7 linked regions of the Homo sapiens genome follow. The protein of the gene in region 7 purifies or fractionates together with the protein of the main gene of each other region. This does not show direct contact. Each region holds a gene or a part of one and is shown on either strand. Other genes may lie near its edges.

Region 1 (3,554 bases), on a different chromosome or scaffold from region 7:
CCTACAATGACCTGGTATCCTTTGCTATCTCTACATTCTTTCCATGTCTAAACTCATCCCTTCTCTTGGCGTTAAATACCATGTATATGCAGACAACTCCTAAATTATTATCTCTTGCCCGAGCCTCTCCTTAAAGGTACATTTCCTGTATTCATCTTCCATCCCCACCTAGATGTCTCATGGATATCGCTAAAGTACCATGTCCAAATAGAACCCTGAAATGTGTCTTTCCTTCTGCCCCTCTCTGAGTGTTCCCATCTCATCAGCACCACCATCCACTGGCTGGCCTAAGGCAGAATACTGAGTATCAACTTTAATTTCTTACTTTCCTTCACTGCCAACCTACAAACCAGGAAATCTTTTAGTTAAAAATTTATCTAAAATTCACCCATTAGTCTAATGCAACCATCATTATCACTCCATAAACTACTGTAACAGCTTCCTTCCAAGATCCAGCTTTCCCTCTGGCATCTCTCAAATTTATTCTCCCATGCTACCAGAGTGGCCTTTTTAAACCCTAATGGTCATATTATTCCTCTCTTAAGATCCTTTACCCGCTTTCCATTGTGTTTTGCATAAAATCTAAATTTTTCACCTTGGCCTACAAGACCTGCCTGATCTGGCCCCTGACAAAGTCTTTACAGTGTTAACCACCATCGTCATTATTGCTATTATCACAATCATCTTGATTCAGAACCATTTCAGCTATTTCACCATTGGTTAATAAATGAACAACTGGAGCCTCATTATCAGTGTTAAAAATTTCTTCAATATCAACTTCTTCCAACTTACTGGTGGACTCTGAAGGTACTTTTTTTTGCGTATGTATGGTCAGACATCTTTTTTTTTTCTCATTTGACATACAGAATCATTCAAAGTCACTTTATTTATAATACTTACTGAACATAGTTGCAGGACAGAGGTTATGCCAGGTATGCACAACTGTCTTTAGTTACTGCATTACAAGCATTGGCAACAGCATATACAACATCCTTTATGCGAAACACCCACACCTATGTTCACTGCTGATAACATACTGTTTACGAAAATGTTTTATATTTACACTGATTGATCTAAGGACACCATTCTCACATGGCTAAATTAATAAAGTCACATTTGGGGAAAAGCACATGGAATAAGTATTACTTTTGATGAGAATTTTAGCTGAAGAATAAGCATAAAAGTTGTCAAGGAATAACAAAATCTTGCAGCCTTCATCCAGTCCAGCTTCCCTGCAGTGAGCATGAGCCATTGCTACAAAATGTTGTGAAAACAATCACAAAAGATGTCCCTGGTGACCCATGCCTTTTGTTAGCATGATAATGGACTAGTAAGAAATTTACTCTTTGAAAATAGTGAGAATTCAAGCTTTTGCCTATTACAGCAGGTTTACATTTGTGTGTGCCTGCTGCATTAGCACATCCCAGCGCAATTATCCTGTCCTTGGTATCCTGATTGCCCACAAGGCCTGTCTCATCGGCTGAAGTCAGTGTCTTTCTGAAGCAATAATGCCAAAACAGTGATGTTTCATCAGCACTATAGACTTGATCTAGTGTGAGAATTTTTATCAGTGATGATCTTGGCAAACTCATCAATAAATTTCTCTGCTGCTTTCTGATCAGCAGATGTTTCGTCACTACAAATATTTGAAAATTTAATGCCATGTTTTTTCTTAAATTTATGCCAAAGAACTACGCATATTCGCAGTTCTTTTAAATTTTCAGTTCATCGTGATAGATCTTTTCCTGTTTCATGATCAGCATACCATTAAGTGGCATGTGTTCTTTGTGATACTGATGGATCCACTTTCTCAATACACAATTGGGATCTTCATTTGTAGCTTTGTGGAATGTTTTTTTACATTTTTCATTAACTTCAGCATAGGACTTAAACAGTTTATCCTTCTATTTCTTTGAGTCATATATGGTGGTCATTTCAACACCATACTCTTTTTTTATTGTTACTTTTTTGAGATGGAGACTCACTCTGTTGCCCAGGCTGGAGTGCAGTGATGTGATCTCAGCTCACTACAACCTCTGCCTCCCAGGTTCAAGCAATTTTCCTGCCTCAGCCTCCCAAGTAGCTGGGATTACAGGCACATGCCTCCACACCCAGCTAATTTTTCTGTTTTTAGTAGAGACAGGGTTTCACCTTGTTGGCCAGGCTGGTCTCAAACTCCCAACCTCAGGTGATCCACCTGCCTCAGCTTCCCAAAGTGCTGGAATTACAGGCATGAGCCACTGCGCCTGGCCTCAACACCATACTCTTCTATCAGACATTTTATACCTATACCACTGTCCAATTTATCCAAAAGCTTGACTTTCTGTGTTATAAGTATACATAAATGCTTCCTTTTTTTTTCTTATCACTGTTACCCATAAGTATCTGCAGACCTTTTTGATATTTTCAACAGTATATTTACATCACAGAGTAGAGAAAAAGCAAAACAAAAACAAAATAAAAAAAAACCCCAAAAAACAAAAAAAGACACACACAGAGAAATACACACAAATCTTGGCCCCATGGAGGCAGAGTGGCAAATCTGCTATAGGCTCATTCATCCTGCACAGGTGCCATTTTTTACCCTTTGTGGACTTGCTTTCATGGGAAAAACTGGGTGTTCAAGAAAAAGATATATCACAGCCGAAAGGGGCTGGGAAATTCTTTTTTCTCTTGTTAATTCTGAGTAAACTGTGCATTGTGTACCTGCATTTTGACTGTGACCCATCACATGAGGTCAAGTAGGAAATTTTCTACTTGTTTCATGTTTGTGCTCAAAAATTTGGAGTTTTGGAGCACTTCCACTCAAATTTTCAGATTAGGGATGCCCAACATATATGCGTGTATATATATATATGTATATATGTGTATATATATATGTATATATGTATATATACATATATATATACATATATACACCAGGAACTAGAAGATGCCTGAAACATAGTATGTACTCAATAAATATGGTTGATTAAACAAATGGATGGGTGAATGAATAAATAAATAAAGGTATACACATTTTCAATCCTGGTGTCTTTTCATATGTGAAAGTTATCATTTTCTCTCTGAACTTTTGTGACTTAGCACAACATTTTAATTTGTAAAATTACTTTCAATATACAAGGAAAGAATTAGAAAACCAGTTGGGATGAAAACGCCTGATGCTCTTCTTGCATATGTTGTTGAATACCAAAATCTTGCTAGGAGTTCATACATAAACAAGGTAGATGGAGAGAGCTGGGAAGATTGTGAGAATGCAATTTTTTCCCCATTGTCTCTGCCTAGCCTTTCTCATATCACAGAATGACACGATGTTAAATGTGAAACCAGATCTCATTCAGCTCTCTTGTTTTGTAATATTAAAACTGTGACTCAGAGAGGTTAAATGACTTCCTCTCAAATCCCTTGAAGTTCCTGGCACAATCAGGTCTAAAATATAGGATTGCTTGACTTTCAGTCCAATGGCCATTCAATTAGTCACATCTCTATTCCTGTATTCCCTGACTTCTCCTCCTCAACTGTACCAGCTTTTCCAATAAAACTTGCTTGATCTA
Region 2 (3,554 bases), on a different chromosome or scaffold from region 7:
CTGCCACTCATATTATTGCCACCTCTGGTCAAACCAACGGGGAGAGGTATGCACACGTGCTCCCTGGGTCAGGGTCACTACTCACATCTTTGTTGCCATCTTTGTTTCGGTCATAGTGTTTGTGGCAGTACCTGCAAGGGAGAGAGTGGTGAGAGCAGGTGGTGTGAGGGGGGCACATCTAAATGAGAGGCTGTGCGTGCAGCCTGCTCGAGCAGCCTAACCACAGCCAAAACTGCGGGCCAGGACGGAGGCGATTCTTGCTCCCGCAGTGGAGTATGGGGAGATGGCCTTCTTAACTCTCATCTCTCTGCAGGGCCTGCTTTTAGACTGCTTAGGAGGTGGGATGTTGGGGCAAACTTACTCCTCAGCCATCCTTGTATCCTTCAAGATGTGGACATAAATGAAAAGAGCTTGTTCATGTTTCCCCATGCGCCCCAACAGGAGAGCTCGTTCTTCTAAGAGGCCTAGGAGGAAAAGGAATATGAGGAACCACTGCCGCCATCACGCAAGCACAAGGTGGGGGCTATGCTGTCAGAGGAGTGGACACGAGGCAATATAAAGGGAAGACAATAGGATTCTTATTGCTTGGGTTTTTCTTCAAGGAGAAAATAACTGAAGTTTAAAAAAGGGGGAGGGAGCTATTTTAGGAAGTACTTTATCCCATCTTTTTTGAGGTCACATATAAACTGGGTAAGAATATTCATTCAGCAGCCAAGTACTTAACAACCACCTACAACATGCTAGGTGGTTCAGGTAAGATGAGCAAATGCTTGCTCTCAGCTCTCATAAAGACAAATTATGCCAGATTACAAAAACTGCTGAACAATGAACTTGGCCAAGAACATGTTCTGAAGCAAAAAACAGGTTGCAACCTGGCTATCAATTAGCATGTGGTTCATACCCAGGAAGGAGACTTTTCTCAGTCACGGTACAAAAGTGAGTCTTCAGAGAGGACAAAACAGGAGCACTGGCCTGAAATGCCTGGTTTTTCCAGGCCCAACTTTTGTGGAGAGTTGGGGAACAATTAAAGGGGTGGATTAGTCTTTGCATGACCTTCGCTGAAGTGGCTTCTGGCCCTAAGCCAGACACTCACCATCAAAGGGAAAATCACAGATGAGCCGGCCTGGATCATAGTAGCTGGAAATCTCCAAGAACATGAGGAGCTTTTGCCGGTATTCTCCCAGCTCACCCTCTTCCTCTCCAGCTGGGACTGGGGTTTTGCCTTTAAGGGAAACCAAGCTCAAAATGAAAGGACACTGCCAGGTGGCAATGTAGGGTCATCAAGAAAAATGAAGGGAATGGGGTTCAAGGATGTCACCACATGACCAGAAAGGGCCTCCAGGGTGGCTTCCATGCTAACTTCTTTTAGTTCATAGTCTCCATGTGGCCCCAAAACATCAGCTTACGGTTAAAAAAATAAGCTGAATAGAGAAATACTCTGTGGGCAAACCTGTTTCTTATCAGTATAGCTGTCATCTTGCAGACAGGTCTGTTCCTTCCACCCTCCCCGAGGGATGACTCTGAGACACTCAGAGATGCCAGGACCTAGACAAGAGCTCCTGAGTCTCATGTGCCAGGCTTGTGTCACTTAGCTCCCCTGGCTCCTCTTCAGAACTTCTGCGCACCTGGGCAGAGAATAGGGTGGCCTGCTTACCCCCACCACACGTGGCACCTGGGTCTGTGCTCTCCTCTAAGGCCTGGGGCCAACCGGCTTCCTAAAAGAACTGGTACCTGCAGGGAAGGACAGGAGATACTCCTTCATCAGACCTTGCACCTTCTCACAGTATAGCTGGATCAGGCAGTTGTGGAACCGAGAGCCTGTCTCCTCCCAAACATGGATGATGTGTTCCTGAGGCAAGATGTAGGTCTTTGTCACTGGTATTCTCCAGGCTGTGACCTGGTCTCCCAGCCTCCCTCACATTTTTAAGGCCCAACAGGTCCCATCCAGATTATCCCCTAATCGGGCTGCAAAGATGACTAAGAGACAGCTCGTCTAAAGCCACCAGGAAGTTTCACAATGCGACCCAGTAACGTGAGGAGCCATCTTCTCAATTACTAAACTCCATTTTACTAATTTTGTCCCATAATCCTCCAAACTCTCATAGCGACTCATGTAATTGTGGTTAAATATCTGCATCCTGGTACTTAAGCCTATTTGATTGTCCTGTGGTCACTTTTGAGTTTCGCTTTGGAATTTTTTTTCCAAATGTGGCTTTGGAATTTTTTTTTCTAAAACATTATTCTTTTATCCCTCTGTAGTTTACCTAGATTTGGTAGGTAGCATTTCCAGCTTGGTCTACTGGGATCTTTTTCTTCAGAGGAAGCTGAAATAACCCTCATCCTTCCAATCCCCAAGTGACATAAATCCCAAATCTGAACAGCCCGATAACAGAACCACGCAGTCCTGGATCCTGGGTTTAAAGCTTTTTAGTGCAGACCAAAAAATACCTTACCAGATAAGGAATAGCCAGACCCTTAAAATTCTCTATTAAGAAGCCGAGGACTCGATCACGTGGCAGAGACTCCACTTCCGGGAGATCTTCAGTAAATATCTGTTAGAATGAACCCGAGTTCCAGCAGCAGAACCATCTGACTGCAGTTCCAGCAAACACACACGCATGTGAGCGCAGGGATCAAACAGACTTTAGGAGGGCAAGGGTACGAGAAGGCATCTGTAGGCAGTCAGCATGTCAGACGAGGCACAGGCCTCCTCATGCCTGTGTAAGGCTCTCTCTACCAACTACAGTGCTGGCTCGCGCTTCCCAGTCCACCCTTTCTTCATGCACCAATGAAGACAGATGCATGAATCCACCCTCCTCTCCATCCACTGCTGTCTCAAGTGCAATCAGAACCAAGTGTTTACCAGATAAATCCAAGGGACTCCTGTGGCTCACCTTCAGGCCATCTTCTGGGAAGTCTCTCAGCACCCACACTGAGTAGGAGAAAATCAAATGCAGGTTTTCTGTGCCTAGAAGGAAAAGCAGGACTTGTCAGCAGTTGAGGCCCATCTTGCCTGTGGCACTGGGAAGGCAGGTGGGCAGGTTGCCCCAGAATTCATTTTCCTGAAAAGACAGCTCAAGCATGAGCCACTTGGGGTTGTTAGCCCTACTGGGCTGGCTCCATACCAGGGGGCTGTCACAGGCCAACCACCGAGGGACTTTTATGCCATTTGGAGGAATGAAATTGAGTGAACACGAGCACGGGAGGGAGGGGAGCAACCAACCAGAAACAGAAACAGAGGGAGACCAGGTCATTTGAACAGGAGCGCTTTCCCACCCCTTTCAAAAGGCGGACTTACCCAGATGCTGCAGATACTGCACTGTCCTCTCGTGGCCTTTCAGAGGGGAGTTGGCTTTCTTGGACTGGTCCACGAGCACCTGCAGAGCTGGCCACCAAGCCCAAGAACAAGGTCATGAGCCTTTTCCCCACGGGAGATTTCCATATCTCAGTGGGTTTCCCCTGCCATGTACAAGAGCCCCTCCCAGATCCAAGGAACCACTCCCACACCTTTCTCGTGGAGCCCCTTCTTCTCATACAGGATGATAAGCTCACTG
Region 3 (3,554 bases), on a different chromosome or scaffold from region 7:
TCCCACTCCCACCTCCAGAATGGTCTTTCTCGCCCAAGAGAGCCTGGGATCCAATTCCACGTGATGTCCCAGCACCCCTGGAGAGTCAGAGCTCTTCTTTGCGCTAAACCAGCTCAGGTGTTGGGGCTGGTGCAGGCACATGCCGTGTAGAAGAAGACAGACAAAGACCCAGCCTGCTCACCACCCACACAGCAGGGAGGGGGCTCAGCGGCTGACACCCCTGTAGGTTCCTGGGGTCCACACCTGCATCTGCTGCTTGGTCTCCAAACGGTCTCATGGGTCAGGCCAGTTGCCTGCTTCCTGGACTCCAGATGGACTTGCCATGGCTGAGGCTCTCCATGGGGTAAAAGGACGCGGAGAATGGGCAGGAGGTGGGGAACTCCCGAATCAAGCTGCACCCTTGTGTTGGGATGGGCTGGACCCCATCTCACGGAGCCTCCTTTCCGCACCTGGGCCTCCCGTGGTCCTTGTCCTGAGTCAGGGAAGCCTGAGTGTGTTCCAGGGGCCTGATGGGACCTCCTTCTCTATCAGGGACTCACAGAAGCAGAATAGGGGTGGGGTCCCACCAAGCCAGGCCAGAACAAATGTGCCAAAAATCACCTTGGTCAGCAACAGGGTGGGGTGTGTGTGTGGGGGGAAGTGGGCACGGAGAGTAGCTGACTTGCAGGAGCCCCAGGCGCTCCTCTGAAAGAAGAATTCCAACCACAGCAACCACAGTGCCCCTGAGTGAAATAAACAGAAATTTCGGCGTGCACCGGGCTACGGAGACCAGAACCCCTGGAGGAGAATGGAGAAGGCCAGAACCACAACTAAGGGACGATGTCAGCAGGGAGAAGAGCTGGGAATGGGGCTCGCAGTTCGCCCACGGAGGATATCCAGAAACCGAGTCGGGTAGGCGGTGGGGCTGGTTGAATATCCACCCTCGGGTATGGACAGGTGTGAGGAGTGTCTAAGGAGCTCGGGGGTGACAGCCCAGCTCTACTAAAAAAAATACAAAAATTAGCCGGGCGTGGTGACACAAGCTGTCCCCTGACACAGAGAGGCAGAGGCACCCTCTGCAGGATAACAAGCACCCTGTGCGCTGCTGGGCTTTGCTTGTTTCTCTACCCTGAGTGAAGCCTGGAGACCCTTCCTCACCGGTGCCTCTGCAGTGCCTGGGAGGAATAAAGCCTGGAGACCCTTCCCCACCGGGCCTCTGCAGTGCCTGGGAGCAACGCAGCTGTTCTCCCTGAACCTCTGGCACCGTGGCCTCTCCATGCGCCCCTGGATCTCCAAGCTGCGCCCCCGGCTCTCCAAGCTGCGCCCCCGGGACTCAGAACACACTCTCCTGCCTCTGGAGGCCGGGCCTGGTGGCTCCCTCCATCCCTTCAGGGTGCGCACCGGCCTCGGAGCGCACGGACGTGGTCCTGGCGGAGAAGAGGCTCTCGCGGCGCGTGTCCAGGGTGTCTCTGGGCACCCGGCGGCAGCCCAAATATTCCCGCAGGCGCAGCTGGAATTCCCGGGACGCAAAGTAATAAACAAACGGGTCCAGACAGTTGTTGAGGCAGCTGAGACACAGCGTGAGCTTGTACACGTGGTAGTAGCTCTTGCCGTAGAACAGGCGGCTCACGATGTGCGCCAGGAGCACGAAGTTGTTGGGGGCGAAGCAGGTGACAAAGGCCAGCAAGACCACCGCGGCCAGGCCCACCGCGCGCCTCCGCTGCTCCCGGCCGTGCGCCTCCTCCGTGCGCAACAGCTTGAGGATGGTGGCCGTGTAACAAGCCACGGTGATCACGAACGGGATGAGGAACAGCAGGATGAAGATGGTGAAGAGGAACACGGCCCACATGGCCACGCTGGGGAGCATCGTCCACTTGAGGACGTCGAAGCAGGTGATGATGCCCAGGGCGTGCACCGGGTAGGTGAGATCGGTGCGCGCCAGCGGGGACAGGGCGGTCAGGAGCAGCAGCCAGGTCCCTGCACACGCGGCCACCGCGTAACGACGGCGGCGCCAGCGCTTGGAGCTGAGCGGGTACAGGACCCCCAGGAAGCGCTCCACGCTGATACAGGTCATGGTGAGGATGCTGGAATACATGTTTGCGTAAAAGGCCACGGTCACCACGTTGCAAAGCAGCACCCCGAATACCCAGTGGTGGCGGTTGCAATGGTAGTAGATTTGGAAAGGCAACACGCTGGCCAGCATCAGGTCCGTGACGCTCAGGTTGATCATGAAGATGACCGACGGGGATCTGGGCCCCATGCGCCGGCACAGCACCCACAGAGAGAAGAGGTTGCCCGGGATGCTGACCGCCGCCACCAGCGAGTACACCACGGGCAGGGCCACCGCGATCGCCGGGTTCCGCAGCATCTGCAGCGTCGCGTTGTCCGGGCCGGTGCTGTTCGGGACCTGCATCCTGGAGGGGTCCTCGCCCGGGCTCTGCAAGGGAAGGAGGGAAGGGTGTACGGGTCAGGGGCGCAGGTAAAGAGGCGGCTGCCGGGAGGGCTCCTGAGCGCCGCTCCCCGGGGACCAAGGCGGGGGAGATGCTTTAGCAGGGCCTGCTGTCTCCTCCCTCCCTCCCTCCCTTAGTTCCTCCTTCCCTCTCCTCCTTCCTTCCCTCCCTCTCTGCCTCCTTTCTTCACCCTGTGTCATTCTTTTCTTCTTTCCTGTCTTCTCCCCTTTCTTCTTCCTTCCTCCTCTCTCCTTCCTTCTCTTCTTCCCTCCTTCCTTCCTTCCTTCCTTCCTTCCCGCCCTCCCTCCCTCCCGTCCTTCCTTGGATCAGGGAGGTCATTGGAGACCTCGGCCCACGTCAGAGGCTGAGACTCTTAGATGATCCACAGTGGGGCTGTGGCTCCCCTGGGCAGGTTGAATGCATTGTCATACAAACCTCAAGACTCAGTGTCCCCCGTGGACGGAAACCACAAAGCCACCGTCAGCCCCCAGGGTGGTCTTAATGGGAATTCTTGACACCCTGGCAGTATTAGTCTGGGTATGAGTCCTCTCATCTCAGGGGCATCCACCCACAAAGTGTCTATCAGCAGAAAACACACACTCCGAGTGCCAGGAGACCAACCCGCAGCCTCCAAAGTCTTTCCAGCTTTTAACACCCGCGTCAACCCACGGCTCCTCCCTGCTCTTTCTTCCTCCAGAGGAGACCTGCGACTTCTTACCAACTGCTCTACAAACAGCTTCCTCAAGCTGGCTTTAAAATGGCCCGGAGTTTTCGTTTCAGTTTCAGGGAGAAGTTTTCTGACCCGCCGGTCCGTGCCCAGGTGTGAAACCTACAGTTATGCACGAGTCAGCACCGCTCCCCACGGCCAGCTGGGCACCTCCAGCCACCTATGGCTTCAGGAGGAAAAGCAGACCCTTCCTTCTTTGGGTTCCGCTTGGTGTGGCCGTGGGGGACGTCTGGAAGGAGAGACGCTTTATCCATGAGCTGGTGATGAAAAAGTGTCTGTCAAAGGGACACTACTTTTATTTTGAGAATGTAAAGTGGACAGAGCTGGAAACAGGGGTGCCCTGGAATTGTTCTTTTGTTTGTTTGTTTTATAGATATGGGGTCTTGCCTTGTTGCCCA
Region 4 (3,554 bases), on a different chromosome or scaffold from region 7:
ACAGTTATTTTTGGCCCTTAACATCCTCTGGATTTTCATTTGTCATAAGAGAAGTATTTTAGGTGCCACTAAAATAATTTGTCAAATATTTTAATATTAGCTAAATGATTTGCAGACTACTATTGTTTAAACTGACCTTATTGGCTATAAAAAGAATGAAGGCAAAAGAAATAAAATCAGCTCTTGCAGAAAGTTTCTGGAGGAGGCTAATATTGAAAAAACTTCTGTTTGCTATTGATAAGTATAATTACTCATGTCCTTGTATAATCGTCTTCCACCAGTGAGACCACTCAGGCGGGACCATCAAGGTTCAAATGAGGCATTGATGATTAGAGCTGAGGAATGACATGAAACAGGTTATGAAGAGTAACCCCAAATATGCAGGAGGAATGGGGAGATGGTGCATGGGAGACTGTAGTCAAATGACTAGGTTGGTATGGAGAGTCTAAGTTATGTATTAATATGGGACGAGGTAGGTTAAATTAAGTGATGACAGTGAAAACCTGCATCTCATATAATTGTCAAGCAAAGCTACCATTAGTTCTTGAGCAAAGATGGCAAAACAATAATCATGAAAGAATAAGTTGCTATATGATTTTCAGTGTGCAAGTCTTTAACATTTTTGGTTAAGTTTATTCTTAAATACTTTATTCCTTTTATTGTTATTGGGGATGGGATTTTGTTTTAATTCCTTTTTTGGATAGTTTGCTGTTTGTGTACAGAAACCTGACTGATATTTTATATGTTGATTTTTGTATCCTGCCTCTTAACTGAATTCATTTATTAGTTTGAACAGGTTTTTTTGTGGCACTTTTAGGGTTTTATACATATATGATTATGTCATCGGCAAACAGAGATAATATTACTTCTTCCTTTCTGATTTGAATGCCTTTTGTTTTCTTTTTCTTGTTTAATGGCTCTGATTAAGACTTCTTGTACTATGTTAAGCAGAGGTGTTGAAAGTGGCCACCTTTGTCTTTTTCCTGATCTTAGAGCAAAAGTTCTCAGTCTTACATGACTTGGTATGATGTTAGCTGTGGGCTTTTCATAGATGGCCTTTATTGTGTTGGGGTAAATTCTTTCTGTACCTAATTTGTTGAGAGTTTTTTTTTTTTAATCACACAAGGATGTTGAATTTGTCAAATGCTTTTTATGCTCTATTTTGATGATCATGTGGCCTTTTTATATCACTTTGTTAATGTGGTGTATTACATTGATTGATTTACATATGTTGAACCATCTTTGCATGCCAGGGATAAATCAGAATTGATTAGAATATACAATCCATTTAATGTGATGGTGAATTTAGTTTGCTAGTATTTTGTTGAGGATTTTTTCATCTGTGTTCATTAGGGATGTCAGCCTGTAGGTTTTTTTTTTTTTTTTGTGGTGTCTTTGTCTGGTTTTGGTATCAGGGTGATGCTGGTCTCATAAACTGAGTTTAGAACTGCTTCTTTTTTTAAAAAAGAATTAAATCATTTATTGATTACACATGATAATGTAGAACTGTTTCTAAACTCAGGATTGGCATTAATTCCTAGAATGTTTGATAGAATTCATCTGTGAAGCCACCTGGTCCTGGGATCAGTGATGGGTCATAGGCCACTGATCCACCTACCTTTGTAGGCACAAAGGTGTCCTACACAGGGTAGAGAGATACTGTCAGCATGATTTGAATCTCAGTTTGTGCTTTCCACTGCCTCAAAACACTCACACTTTCCTACTTTCTCCTTTTTCTAACTGACTAAGTTTCCATCACATTTGCTTTCTTTCCTATAGAGTTTCAGCCGTCTCAATGTCTATGTTTTTTTCCACATCAGACCAAACTGCTTCCCCATCATTGAAATATTAAGCATCTTGGATTTCTCAAACTTTTATAGTCTGAAAATTGCTACCCTCGAGTGACTTATTAACTTCCATCTATTTGTATTTATTTATTTATTTATTTTTTGAGACCGGGTTATGAGACTGGCTAATTTTTGTATTTTTGGTAGAGATGGGGTTTCAAGGATGGTCCTGGGCTCAAGCAATCCCCTGCCTCAGCCTCCTAAAGTGCTGGGATTGGTAGTGTGAACCACCACACCTGGCCTGCATCTATTTGTAATGTTCCAAACTCTGGTTATCAGAAATTAATTGAGATTAAGGATTATGGCATCTGCTTAAAGTTGTCAAAGCATCTTTTCAGAATATGCCCAGTAAGTGTTCTTGACCGATTATGTTAATGTTTCTATTCATTCTAGTAGGGGCTGTGTCCATTTTAATTTTAAGTTTTCTACCTCTTTTCTTTCCAGATTTTTTTTCTTCAACGTTTAACCTTTGAGGTTTACTGATTGTTGATCAAAGAAACTGAACTTTCAAAAGATCAACTACAGTGATTGGAGAAAAAACTTTCATGAACTCTTGTTTACATATATAACTTTCAGATAGGGCTATTTACTTTTTTAACTTTCATTTTCTTATTTTGAATTTTTAATATAAGTGGCACATAATTGCTGGTCATCTGAATAGAAGGATGGGATTAGTAAATTAAGATTACAAAACTATTCACTAGGAAATCATAGTGCCACAGCTAAGAGAATCTTCCCAGATATTTCCTCTGGGACGATGTGAGGTATAGGATTGACAAGGAGGAAGGACAGGGGAATAGAGTGCTGTAAGTTATAAATACATCCGTATATAGATGATACATCTTATTTATACAGATTATAAATCTTGCCTGTAGATGGCTTGTGGGAGGTTACTGACTTTGAGACTCTGTGCTCCTGAGTTGGATTATAAAATTATTGAAGAAAGGAAATAAATTTTGCTTATTTCCTTGGCCTTTTATTTCTGTCAAAAACCAACCAGTTTGCTCCCAGTCCATTTGGATTCCAGAAGAGTTTCAGGTTGTAGACAAGACAGTTTTTTTTTTTTTTTAAGGATTCCATTAATCCAGAACCTTCTGTCCCACTCCTATGAATTTAGAATAGATATAAAGCTTGTGGACATGAGGATTGTCTGAACTGGTGTGCACTGGGCTGACAGATATGTCCCTTTCCATGACATTGTGTGGTGAACCTCAGCCTTTTATTATCTTTACCTACATGGAAAGTAAAATGTCCATGACAGTTAATTTATATGATGGAGCAACACGACCAGAATCCCAGAGCACCGTGTCACTGCTCACAAGCTAAAATAACCTCTACTCAAACAGATCAACCACAATTTTCAGCCCAATTTAGTTTTCTCGGTGAAACTGGGTATCCAGATGAAACATAGTTTCCAGCATCACAAGTGAGTTGATTACTCAATCATGGCTATTATGTGGTTGAATCTTTACTTTACTGTTGCCTCTGCCCAGATCATTTTTTTTAATGATCTATTGCATTCAAAAAAATGCAACCGGTCAGTTAATTTGTTTTGTAAGCCCTAGTATTGATCTATTCATTTTTTGAACACACAAAAACCTAGAATGTTTGCCTGCAGTCATTTTTTATACATACTATTATTGTATAGATAAGTAAGATATTGAATAATAGTGATAAGTTATTGTCAGAGGGAATGAAACTCTAAAA
Region 5 (2,289 bases), on a different chromosome or scaffold from region 7:
ATCTGAGAATGAGCCCAGAGGCTTGTTTGGGGACTGTTTTACTCTGATACTACCTGGATATCTAGCTTCCTTTACCCCTGTTCTGCTTAACAGAACTGCCAAGCCCAGAAGTACCTTTGCACTCCTGGTTTTCAGTGGACAGAGGAAGCTTTAGATAGAGACTTTAGACCCTGCCCTGCAGAGTCAAGACTTGAGGCCATTGAAGCTGCAGGAAGCCCTGCCCAGGGATGGTCCTGCCATGAGGAGGCTGCAACCCTATAAGAGGGCTCAAGATTGTGAATTCTGCTCCTGCCATGAGGAGCTCAGAAGGCCAGGAAGCCAGCAATAGGGGAGAGAATCTGTGTGCTTATGGACAGTCCTTACCTAAAGCTGTTTCTGAATGTTGCACCCTTTGAGAAATTTCTTCTCAGAACCATAAATTGAAACAAATGAGGACTGATCTTGTATACAAAGTGCCAACTCAAGAGGGAAGTTGGAGTATGTCTGTTGCAGAGAACCAATATAGCAGTGCCCAGGGGTAGAGACCATGTGTTCCATACTCGGATATTTGGGTCTTTTTGAGAGAGCTGGGGAAAGTAGCAGCAACTAGATTAAGACTGGGAGGATTTTGACCAAACTAAAGGCCTTTTCTCCTTACTGCATCTGACGTGTGTCTTCTTGAGACAAGATAGCACCCATGAATTACATCATGAGGTATGTGTGAATTCAGTTTACATGTAAGACCTGAGAGTTCGAAGAGGGCACATTCCCAAAGACATTCCCAGTCATGAAATGTAGAAGACTGGAAAATTAAGACATTATGTAAAGGTAGATATGGCTTTTAGAGTTACATTATGCTTGGCATGAATAAGGTGCCAGGAAAACAGTTTAAAATTATACATCAGCATACAGACTGCTGTTAGAAGGTATGGGATCATATTAAGATAATCTGTCAGCTACTACTAGGCATTTATTGTTAATTGAGTTACAGAAAGTCATTCAAGACTGAGTTTATAGAAAGCATATTGCATCTATCTCTGTGTAGAACATTTGATTCACATTGTGAAGAATGCAGTTTAAAATATACTGAATGCAATCTAGATGTATTGTACACGAAAGGTGAAAAATAACAGGTGCTCTTTACTGTTTAGATAAATTGTTTTCTGTGTTATTTCCCTTCGTTCACTGTGAGGGGTTGATTCATGAGGAGAGCCCTGGGTTCCTGGCTCAGGTTTACTTTTGGCCTTAGGATAGGATTCCCTTATTAGAGATAAATACTGCTGTTCTCTTCTAGCTCATTCATTCATTTAGCAGTCAATTGCTCAGTGCCAGGTGCTAGGAACAGAGGCTCAATCTCTACCCTCAGAAAACTCAGTGTGACGAGAGAGAGCCTGACAGATAAAATGAACTATGACCCTGTAAGAGGGCTCAGGATCGTGAATCCTGCAGGCAGAGAAACATGAGCCATAATCTGTCCCTGCATTTTCTAGCTGTGGAATCTTGGGTCAGCTCCTTAACTGGTCTGAGCTTTGGCTTCAGGGTAGTAAAGGGAGGGGTATTAAAGGTCCTGGTTAAATGAAATCATCAGTGTGTGTAAAACAGCATTGGTTCTAGCTCATACATGATAACCACTCATTAAGTGGTAATTATGTTTTTATTATAAGGGCTATGCTGTAATTCAGACATGGGCCCAAAACTACAGGAAAGATAAATTGTTTTTGCTAAAGTATTGCCAAGAAACTTCACAGTTTCTTGGGAGGTGGGCCTTGAGGCATGCAAAGAACTTCTTCAGGTAGGCAAAGAAGAGAGGACACTCTTGGCAGAAAGAGTTGTTGAAAAAAGCAGTAGGGTGTGAAAATACATGGATGTTCAAGTATTTTGGTGAGGCTGTTATGTAAAGTGTTGTTGGTCTTTGGGGAAAATTGGCTTATGGAAATTCCTGCCAGAAGTACTAAGCCCTTATGGTGGTTCTTCCTGCCCTAGCTCTTGGTTGGTTTATATATAAGGAATATATTTGTGTATTTATATATCAGACATTTGGATGTACCTTTCAGTTATTTAGGATTTAGAAAATTCTTTTTGGATTTTCCAGAATTATTTTATCCTTCGGGGATGACAGTTATATGTGTATATACAACCCAGGATGACAAAATCATGGGTCCGGTTTTTGTTGCCAGGGCTGCTGTCTCTTTTCTTGCGGTCTTCATTTCTCACGAGGGTGCTGGGAACTTGATCAGTCCCCTGGCCTTTTGGCACTGTGGCAGAGTACACAAGTCATACCTTTATGGACAGTTAGCTCACAAAACAACT
Region 6 (3,554 bases), on a different chromosome or scaffold from region 7:
CTCAGCCCCGTGGCCTTGTCGGGGAGCCTCTGTGTGAGCACGTGAGTACGCACACATGTGCACGTGAGGCAGGCAGGACTCAGCTTAGTAAGCTTGGGGGTGTGCTTCTGGGAGTCCCACAGACCCCGCAGGGGAACCTGCTGTGGCTGATGGTGAGAATAAAGGGCAGGTTTGCTCCGTGTCCCGGGACAGCCCAGGGCCCCAGAGGAAACTGTGTCTCTGTCTAGGCCGCATGGAAGGGGCCAAGAAGAGAACTGTTCATCTTCTTGGCTGATCCTAATATCATGAGAAAAAGACCCTGCACCTATTTTGGGGGTGCTGCCCCAGGTGTTCTGCCTGGGAGAATAACCTTGGTTTGGTGAAGTCAGCTGGGAACAAAAAATATACAAAAAAATTCAACTGGAAGGAAAGCTATTTTTCCTGTTTCTTATACTGAGGTCTGACTATTTCTGGCTGACTTGTTTATTCAAAGCCTGAGCGTTCTTTAGAGGACAGCGAGAGGGAAGACCCAGCTTGGCTCCTCTCTGGCCTCAGGCATCTCCCCTCCCTCCTGTCCTCTGTCCCTTCCCTCCTCTGTCTGTCACATGCTTTTCCCTTTGCCTCTGCTTTCCCCTTGCTGGTACTAGAGTCACGGGGCATCTGGCACAAGGGGCAAAGCCGACTCCCTCTGTCCTCACAGAGCTTGACTTGGGGCACTGGCTCTGTGCTGCTGGGCATCGTGGGGCCCCACATGCACCTGGGCTTTGGATCCCGAGACTCCGGGCCAGTTGCTGGGTTCCCCTCTGCCCAGTTTCCTCGTCTGTGAAATGGGGCAACTGCTCTTCTGAAGGCGAATGAGTGTTCACCCAGTGTCCACAGAAACAGCCCGGCATTTACAGGATGCTCTGTGCAGTGTGTGGGAGGCCAGGCCCTCCCGGTGGGGCAGCCACGCTGGCTCAGATCCACTCTGCCTCGGAGGTTCTGGGCACTCCTTTCAGGTTGAAGCAATAGGGGAGAGTAGAGAGCTGCTGCTCCAGGCCAGCACCCAGTCCCGAGGGCCACCACTTTCCATGTTGCAGGTCCTCCAGGGTCCGCTGGGGTCCACTGAGGGTCTGTCGAGGGTCCTGAGGGTCTGTCGAGGGTCCTAACGGTCTGTCAAGGGTCTGTTGCGGGTCACTGCTTTCCATGTCGCGGGTCCCAAGGGTCTGTCATGGGCCACTGCTTTCTACATCACAGGTCCATTGAGGGTCCGTCAGGGTCCTGAGGGTCTGTCATGGGTCCTGAGGGTCTGTCATGGGTCACTGCTTTCTACATCACAGGTCCGTTGAGGGTCCGTCAGGGTCCTGAGGGTCCGTCATGGGTCCTGAGGGTCTGTAACGGGTCCTGAGGGTCTTTCATGGGTCACTGCTTTTGACGTCATGGGTCCGTTGAGGGTCTGCCATGGGTCCGAGTGGTCCTCTGAGGGTCTGTCAAGTGTCTGTCAAGGGTGACTGCTTTCTTCATGAAGAGCTAAGGGCAGGGGATCTGCAGAGTGAAGCCTGAAACCATCTCGGTGAGAGAGAATCCGACACCATCCTCACACTTCTTATGGGCGTTGACCACTGTTACACATGTGGGGAGACCCTATTACTAGGACAGGAACTCCAGGGGCCCAACTCCACCTGGGGAACGGGGCTTGCCAGGTGAAAAATCTTGTTTTTAATTTTGTTATCACAGCAAATCTGATTCACAGGCATCACGCGCCAGCTTATCCCCAGAGGCACATTTCCTGCATGAAGACGATGATGGGCTATGAAAAAGCTGACGTCTGTGTGGTTATAAACGGCTTTACTATCTTAAAACTAAGTTAATTCAAATCTGTTTAGACTGAGCAACTGTGCCAGCAGAGGGACCTATCTGCGTGGAATGCGGGAGGAGAGTCTGGAGCTCCTGGCTCCTTAAGAAGAACCTTGGTAGCAAGGGTCTCTGGTTGAGAGTGAGGTACCAGGGGCACGAATCCTTCACAAAGATGCCGAGCATGTGGAGTGCTCTGGGCCAGCAGGGATGTGCTTGGTAGAACGGCCTGCATGTAGGAGGTGCTCAACAGCACCTGCTATGTTAAACTGACTTGATTAGGTACTATATAACCACCAATAACTACTACAAATACAGCTGAGGGAGAAGGGCGTGGGTGGAGTCAAACACCCTGTACTGCATTTGTAGGAACTAATAATTAAGATTATCCTGAAATCAAAGAGTTGGACGCAGATATTCATAGATATGCAACTGAGTTCACAATCAGGCTTTACAAGGAATTTACCCATGGCACAAGATCAAGTTCTTCCAGCAATCTGGAAGGAAGCCTTTACTGCTCAGAATCTAGGAGATTCAGACAGAAAGCAACAGAGTTGTGTGTGTTCATCTGTGCCAAGATTTCTCAACCCAGATGTGTGTGAGGAAGGGTGTGCCTTTCCTCAGTCTAGCTCCATGGGGGTCAGGGCTCAGGGCCCTTTCACTTCCCAGCCCTGATGATGCCTGGGAACCCCACCCTCCCTGCCTCAGTGCCACCCCCATGTCTCAGCTGCCAACTGGGCCTGTTCTGGCCCCAGCCTCTCTGCCAGGCTCTCTGTTTCTCAGCCATGACCCTGTGCCCTGACAGGAACCCTGCACCAGCACAGAGACGTCCTCATCGTGAGAAGAGGGAACAGAGATAAAGGGACAAGACAGTGGGACCCTGTGGTGGGGACAGCCTTACCCAGGAGGATGGCTGGTCAGGGCAGTGCAACGTGCCAGAGCTGGAGTAGAGAACGTCGTCCTTGACCAGCACTGAGATGGCTCTCAGGATGAAGGACAGGAACAGGTTCAGGTGGATGTAATTCCTGGTGCAGTGCAGCTTCCTGAGGTGGGGGAGTGGGAGAGAGAGGAATTGGAGGGGGAAGGGGAGGGAGGGAGAGAGAACCAGACAGAGATGAGAAACTCATACTATGATCAGAGAAGCACAGAAAAATAAAAGAGTTGAGGGCATGAAGCAGATTTCACCATGAATGGCAACTGCAATTTGCTGTGGCAGAGAAAAATGAAAAAGCTCTGTTAAGAATTTTTTTGAGATAATAAAGTAGATGAGATGAAGAAACGTTTTTAGCAAATACATACTGAATTTGATAAGAAGTTTCCTATCAACAATTAAAAAACTGTTAAAATCCCAACAAAGGAGGTCAGTGAAAATGGTGGTGTAGGGACCATTCAAGAAACAACAACAACAACAACAAAGATACTCAAAGGCTTATGCCAACCAAGTGAACGCTTAGCCGGGGGAAGGCCCTGAATAGGCAGAGGGCATGCTGTCTTTAGCTCACCCTTTTCCACCCCACCCCAACATGGTGGTCATTTTGAAGACAGAAGCTCATGTTCCTATTGTGGGTACTTGGTCCTGGAGAAATTTCATAAACCCAAGGAGTTGTGTTTGTTTTGACCTTTCTGTGGGTTCTGGGCAAAAGACTAAGATTCCGCGGGCTGAGAAGTGGTTTTGCAGACATGCTGGAAGCTGAATGAATAAGCTCCCGCCACCTCAGGAGACACTTGGCAGGGGAAGCAAA
Region 7 (3,554 bases):
GGATAGCTAAGACGGGAGAATTGCTTGAACTGGGGAGGTGGAAGTTGCGGTGAGACGAGATTGTGCCACTGCATCCCAGCCTGGGTGACTGAGTGAGAATCTGTCTCAAAAACAATTAAAAAAAAAAAAGTTCTAGTCTCCAGAGCAGCAGCAGCGGCACCAGCAGCAGCAGCATCATAAACTCATAAATCAAAGAAACATGGGTAAGTGTGATTATGTTAAAAACATACACACAGCCAAAATTACCAGAAGCAATGTCAAAAGAAATGACAAAGGCGAACGCAGCCTACAAAGGGCGCATGTGCAGAGGGGCCTACAAACAGGCTCATTCTCGGCAGCACTGCCTCCAACAGCGTAGAGAGGAAAAAAATGCTCTCCAACAGAAAGCTGATTTAATACATTATGTACATCCAAACAATGGAACTCTATGCAGCTTCAAATGAGAATAAACAAGTATTGCCATACGTGGTAGAAAATGACTCAGAGATATTATTAAGAGAATAACGCAACATACCAAAGTATATATATCATATGCTACTACTTGTACAAAAGTGGGGAGGGATTATATACTATGAGCTGTAGCTGCATATAATATCCCCCCACCCCAAATTAAAAGAGAAATAGTGATTGCTTCTGGGATAAGGGGCAGTCTGAGAACTGGGGTAAAAAGTAGCTTCAGGCCAGGCACAGTGGCTCACGCCTGTAATTCCAGCACTTTCAGAGGCCGAGGCAGGTGGATCATCTGAGGTCAGGACATCGAGATCAGTCTGGGCAACATGGTAAAATCCCGTCTCTACTAAAAATACAAAAATTAGGCGGGCGTGGTGGTGGATGCCTGTAATCCCAGCTACTTGAGAGGCTGAGGCAAGAGAACTGCTTGAACCCAGAAGGCGGAGGTTGCAGTGAGTCGAGACTGTGCCACTGCACTCCAGCCTGGGCAACAGAGTGAGACTCTGCCTCAAAAAAAAAAAAAAAAAAAAAAAGGGCCGGGCGCAGGTGGAAGCTCAGGAGGCTGGACAACACGGTGAAACCCCGTCTCTACTAATACACAAAAAAATTAGCTGGGCGTGGTGGTGTGTGCCTGTAATCCTAGTTACTTGGGAGGCTGAGGCAGGAGAACTGCTTGAACCTGGGAGGTGAAGGTTGCAGTGAGCTGAGATTACACCAGTGCACTCCAGCCTGGGTGACAGTGTGAGACTCCATCTCAAAAAAAAAAAGATTTTCTTCTTTGTCTGCAGAGTGGAAGATTTATGAAGACTCAAAAAGCACAATCTAAAAGAACAAAAGTGATATATTTACCTGCTTTAGGGTGAAGGACTCACACTTCTGATTTCAAAGCTTATGGCAAAGCTACTGTAATCAAGACAGTGTAGTACTGGCATAAGGACGGACATACAGACATATAGATCAGTGAAACAGAACTAAAAGACCAAAAACAGACCCTTACATTTGTGGACAATTGATTTTTGACAAGGGTACCAAAACAATTCAATGAGGAAAATACAGTCTTTTCAACAAATAGTGCTGGAACAAATAGATATCCATGTGTAAAAAATGAAATTTGGACACCCACCTTGCATTACATACAGAATTAACTTAAAATGGGTTGAAGACCTAAACATAAGATGTAGAAAAATTATAAGCTGGGCGCGGTGGGTCACACCTGTAATCCCAGCACTTTGGGAGGCTGAGGCGGGAGGATTGCCTGAGCTCAGGAGTGTGAGACCAGCCTGGGCAACATAGTGAGACCTGTCTCTTTAAAAAATAAAAAATTATAGAACTCTTAGAAGGAAACATCAGAGTGAATCTTTGTGATCCTGGGGTAGGCAATGGCTTCTCAGAGATGATACTGAAAGCACAAGTAACAAGAGAAAAACTGGATAAAAGAGACTTCACCAAAATTTAAAACTTTAGTGCATCGAACGACACCAATCTCACCAAGAAAGTGAAAAGAACTCACAGAACAAAAGAAAATACTTGGAAATCATGTATCTGAGGAGAGACTTGCATTTAGAATCTATTAAGAATTCTTACAATTCTGTAATAAAAATGACAGAACCCAATTTTAAAAATGGGCAAGTGATCTGAACAGACATTTGTTTAGCTGAAGACAAAGGCCAACAGGCACAAGAAAAGATGATCAACATCCTTAGTCATTATGGAAATGCAAATAAAAACTACAATGAGACACCACTTCATACTCAGTAGGATGACTAAATTCAAAGAATAACAGGCCAGGCATGGTGGCTCACGCCTGTAATCGCAGCACTTTGGGAGGCTGAGATAGGTGGATCACCTGAGGTCAGGAGTTCAAGACCAGCCTGACCAACATGGCGAAACCCCATCTCCACTAAAAATACAAAAACTAGCCAGGCGTGGTGGTGCATGCTTGTAATCCCATCTACTCAGGAAGCTGAGGCGGGAGAATTGCTTGAGCCTGGGAGGCCGAGGTTGCAGTGTGCCAAGATCGAGATCGCACCACTGTACTCCAGGCTGGGTGACAAAGTGACAATCCATCTCAAAAAAAAAAAAAAAAAAAAAGACAGAATAATAAGTCTGTCCATGTGGATATACAACTGGAACCCTCCCACACTGCTGCTGGGAGTACAAACGGTACAGCTTCAGTGCAAAAGAGTTTGGCAGCTCCTCCAAATGTTAAATGCAGAGTTACCACAACTCAGCAATTCTACTCCTAGGGGTGTGTGTGTGTGTATGTATGTGTGTATGTATGTATGTATGTATGTATGTATGTATGTATGTATGTATTTTTGAGACAGAGTTTCACTCTTGTTGCCCAGGCTGGAGTGCAATGGCGTGATCTCAGCTCACTGTAACCTCCACCTCCCAGGTTCAAGCAATTCTCCCGCCTCAGCCTCCCAAGTAGCTGGGATTACAGGCATGCGCCATCATGCCTGGCTAATTTTGTATTTTTAGTAGAGACGGGATTTCTCCATGTTGGTCAGGCTGGTCTTGAACTCCCAACCTCAAGTGATCCATCCACCTCAGCCTCCCAAAGTGCTAGGATCACAGGCGTGAGCCACCACGCCCAGTCTCTACTCCTAGGTATATCTAAGAGAAATGAAACCATACATCCACATAAAAACTTTTCACAATATTCACAGTATCGTGACAGCCAAAAAGTGGAAACAACCCATCAGGTGTCCATCAGCTGATGAATGATAATATCATTACAATGGAATACTATTCAGCAATAAGAAGGAATGAAGGCCTCGCGCAGGCTTCAACCTGGGTGAACCCTCAAAACATTACACTAAGTGAAGATGCCAGACACAAAGGACCATTTATGTATTATAGAATTTCATTTCTAAAAAATCTCCAGAATAAGTTCAAAACCAGCCTGGACAACATAATAAGACGCTGTCTCTCCAAAAAATAAAAATAGAAAAAAAAAGAAATTAAAAAAAAATTAGCCAGGTGTGGCGGCACATGCCTGTAGTTCCAGCTACTCAAAAGGCTGAGGCTGAAAATTCGTTCAAGCCTAGGAGGTCAAGGCTGCAGTGAGGTATTATCACGTCACTGCACTCCAACCTGGG

Evidence for each region.
Region 1: the proteins of VPS33A (region 7) and ANKRD22 purify together in Homo sapiens (co-immunoprecipitation; one large-scale study listed by IntAct). This does not show direct contact.
Region 2: the proteins of VPS33A (region 7) and VPS39 purify together in Homo sapiens (co-immunoprecipitation; one study listed by IntAct). This does not show direct contact.
Region 3: the proteins of VPS33A (region 7) and P2RY8 purify together in Homo sapiens (co-immunoprecipitation; one large-scale study listed by IntAct). This does not show direct contact.
Region 4: the proteins of VPS33A (region 7) and CD226 purify together in Homo sapiens (co-immunoprecipitation; one large-scale study listed by IntAct). This does not show direct contact.
Region 5: the proteins of VPS33A (region 7) and RIC3 purify together in Homo sapiens (co-immunoprecipitation; one large-scale study listed by IntAct). This does not show direct contact.
Region 6: the proteins of VPS33A (region 7) and VIPR2 purify together in Homo sapiens (co-immunoprecipitation; one large-scale study listed by IntAct). This does not show direct contact.

What each region holds. Positions count from the first base shown.
Region 1 is NC_000010.11:88,845,307-88,848,860, forward strand, and holds part of ANKRD22 (ankyrin repeat domain-containing protein 22), read right to left. Parts: intron 1-3,554.
Region 2 is NC_000015.10:42,163,265-42,166,818, forward strand, and holds part of VPS39 (vam6/Vps39-like protein), read right to left. Parts: coding exon 3,508-3,554; intron 3,386-3,507; coding exon 3,299-3,385; intron 2,969-3,298; coding exon 2,895-2,968; intron 2,553-2,894; coding exon 2,454-2,552; intron 1,850-2,453; coding exon 1,732-1,849; intron 1,626-1,731; coding exon of another isoform or gene 1,609-1,625; exon of another isoform or gene 1,455-1,608; intron 1,223-1,454; coding exon 1,094-1,222; intron 465-1,093; coding exon 362-464; intron 132-361; coding exon 86-131; intron 1-85. UniProt on the Homo sapiens protein: Regulator of TGF-beta/activin signaling, inhibiting SMAD3- and activating SMAD2-dependent transcription.
Region 3 is NC_000023.11:1,464,167-1,467,720, forward strand, and holds part of P2RY8 (S-geranylgeranyl-glutathione receptor P2RY8), read right to left. Parts: intron 3,053-3,554; exon of another isoform or gene 2,865-3,052; intron 2,417-2,864; 5' UTR 2,393-2,416; coding exon 1,313-2,392; 3' UTR 1-1,312. UniProt on the Homo sapiens protein: G protein-coupled receptor for S-geranylgeranyl-glutathione (GGG), an endogenous metabolite present in lymphoid tissues.
Region 4 is NC_000018.10:69,888,850-69,892,403, reverse strand, and holds part of CD226 (CD226 antigen isoform a precursor), read left to right. Parts: intron 1-3,554.
Region 5 is NC_000011.10:8,107,788-8,110,076, reverse strand, and holds part of RIC3 (protein RIC-3 isoform a precursor), read left to right. Parts: 3' UTR 1-2,289. UniProt on the Homo sapiens protein: Molecular chaperone which facilitates proper subunit assembly and surface trafficking of alpha-7 (CHRNA7) and alpha-8 (CHRNA8) nicotinic acetylcholine receptors.
Region 6 is NC_000007.14:159,040,322-159,043,875, forward strand, and holds part of VIPR2 (vasoactive intestinal polypeptide receptor 2 isoform 1 precursor), read right to left. Parts: intron 2,856-3,554; coding exon 2,714-2,855; intron 1-2,713. UniProt on the Homo sapiens protein: G protein-coupled receptor activated by the neuropeptides vasoactive intestinal peptide (VIP) and pituitary adenylate cyclase-activating polypeptide (ADCYAP1/PACAP).
Region 7 is NC_000012.12:122,256,467-122,260,020, forward strand, and holds part of VPS33A (vacuolar protein sorting-associated protein 33A), read right to left. Parts: intron 1-3,554.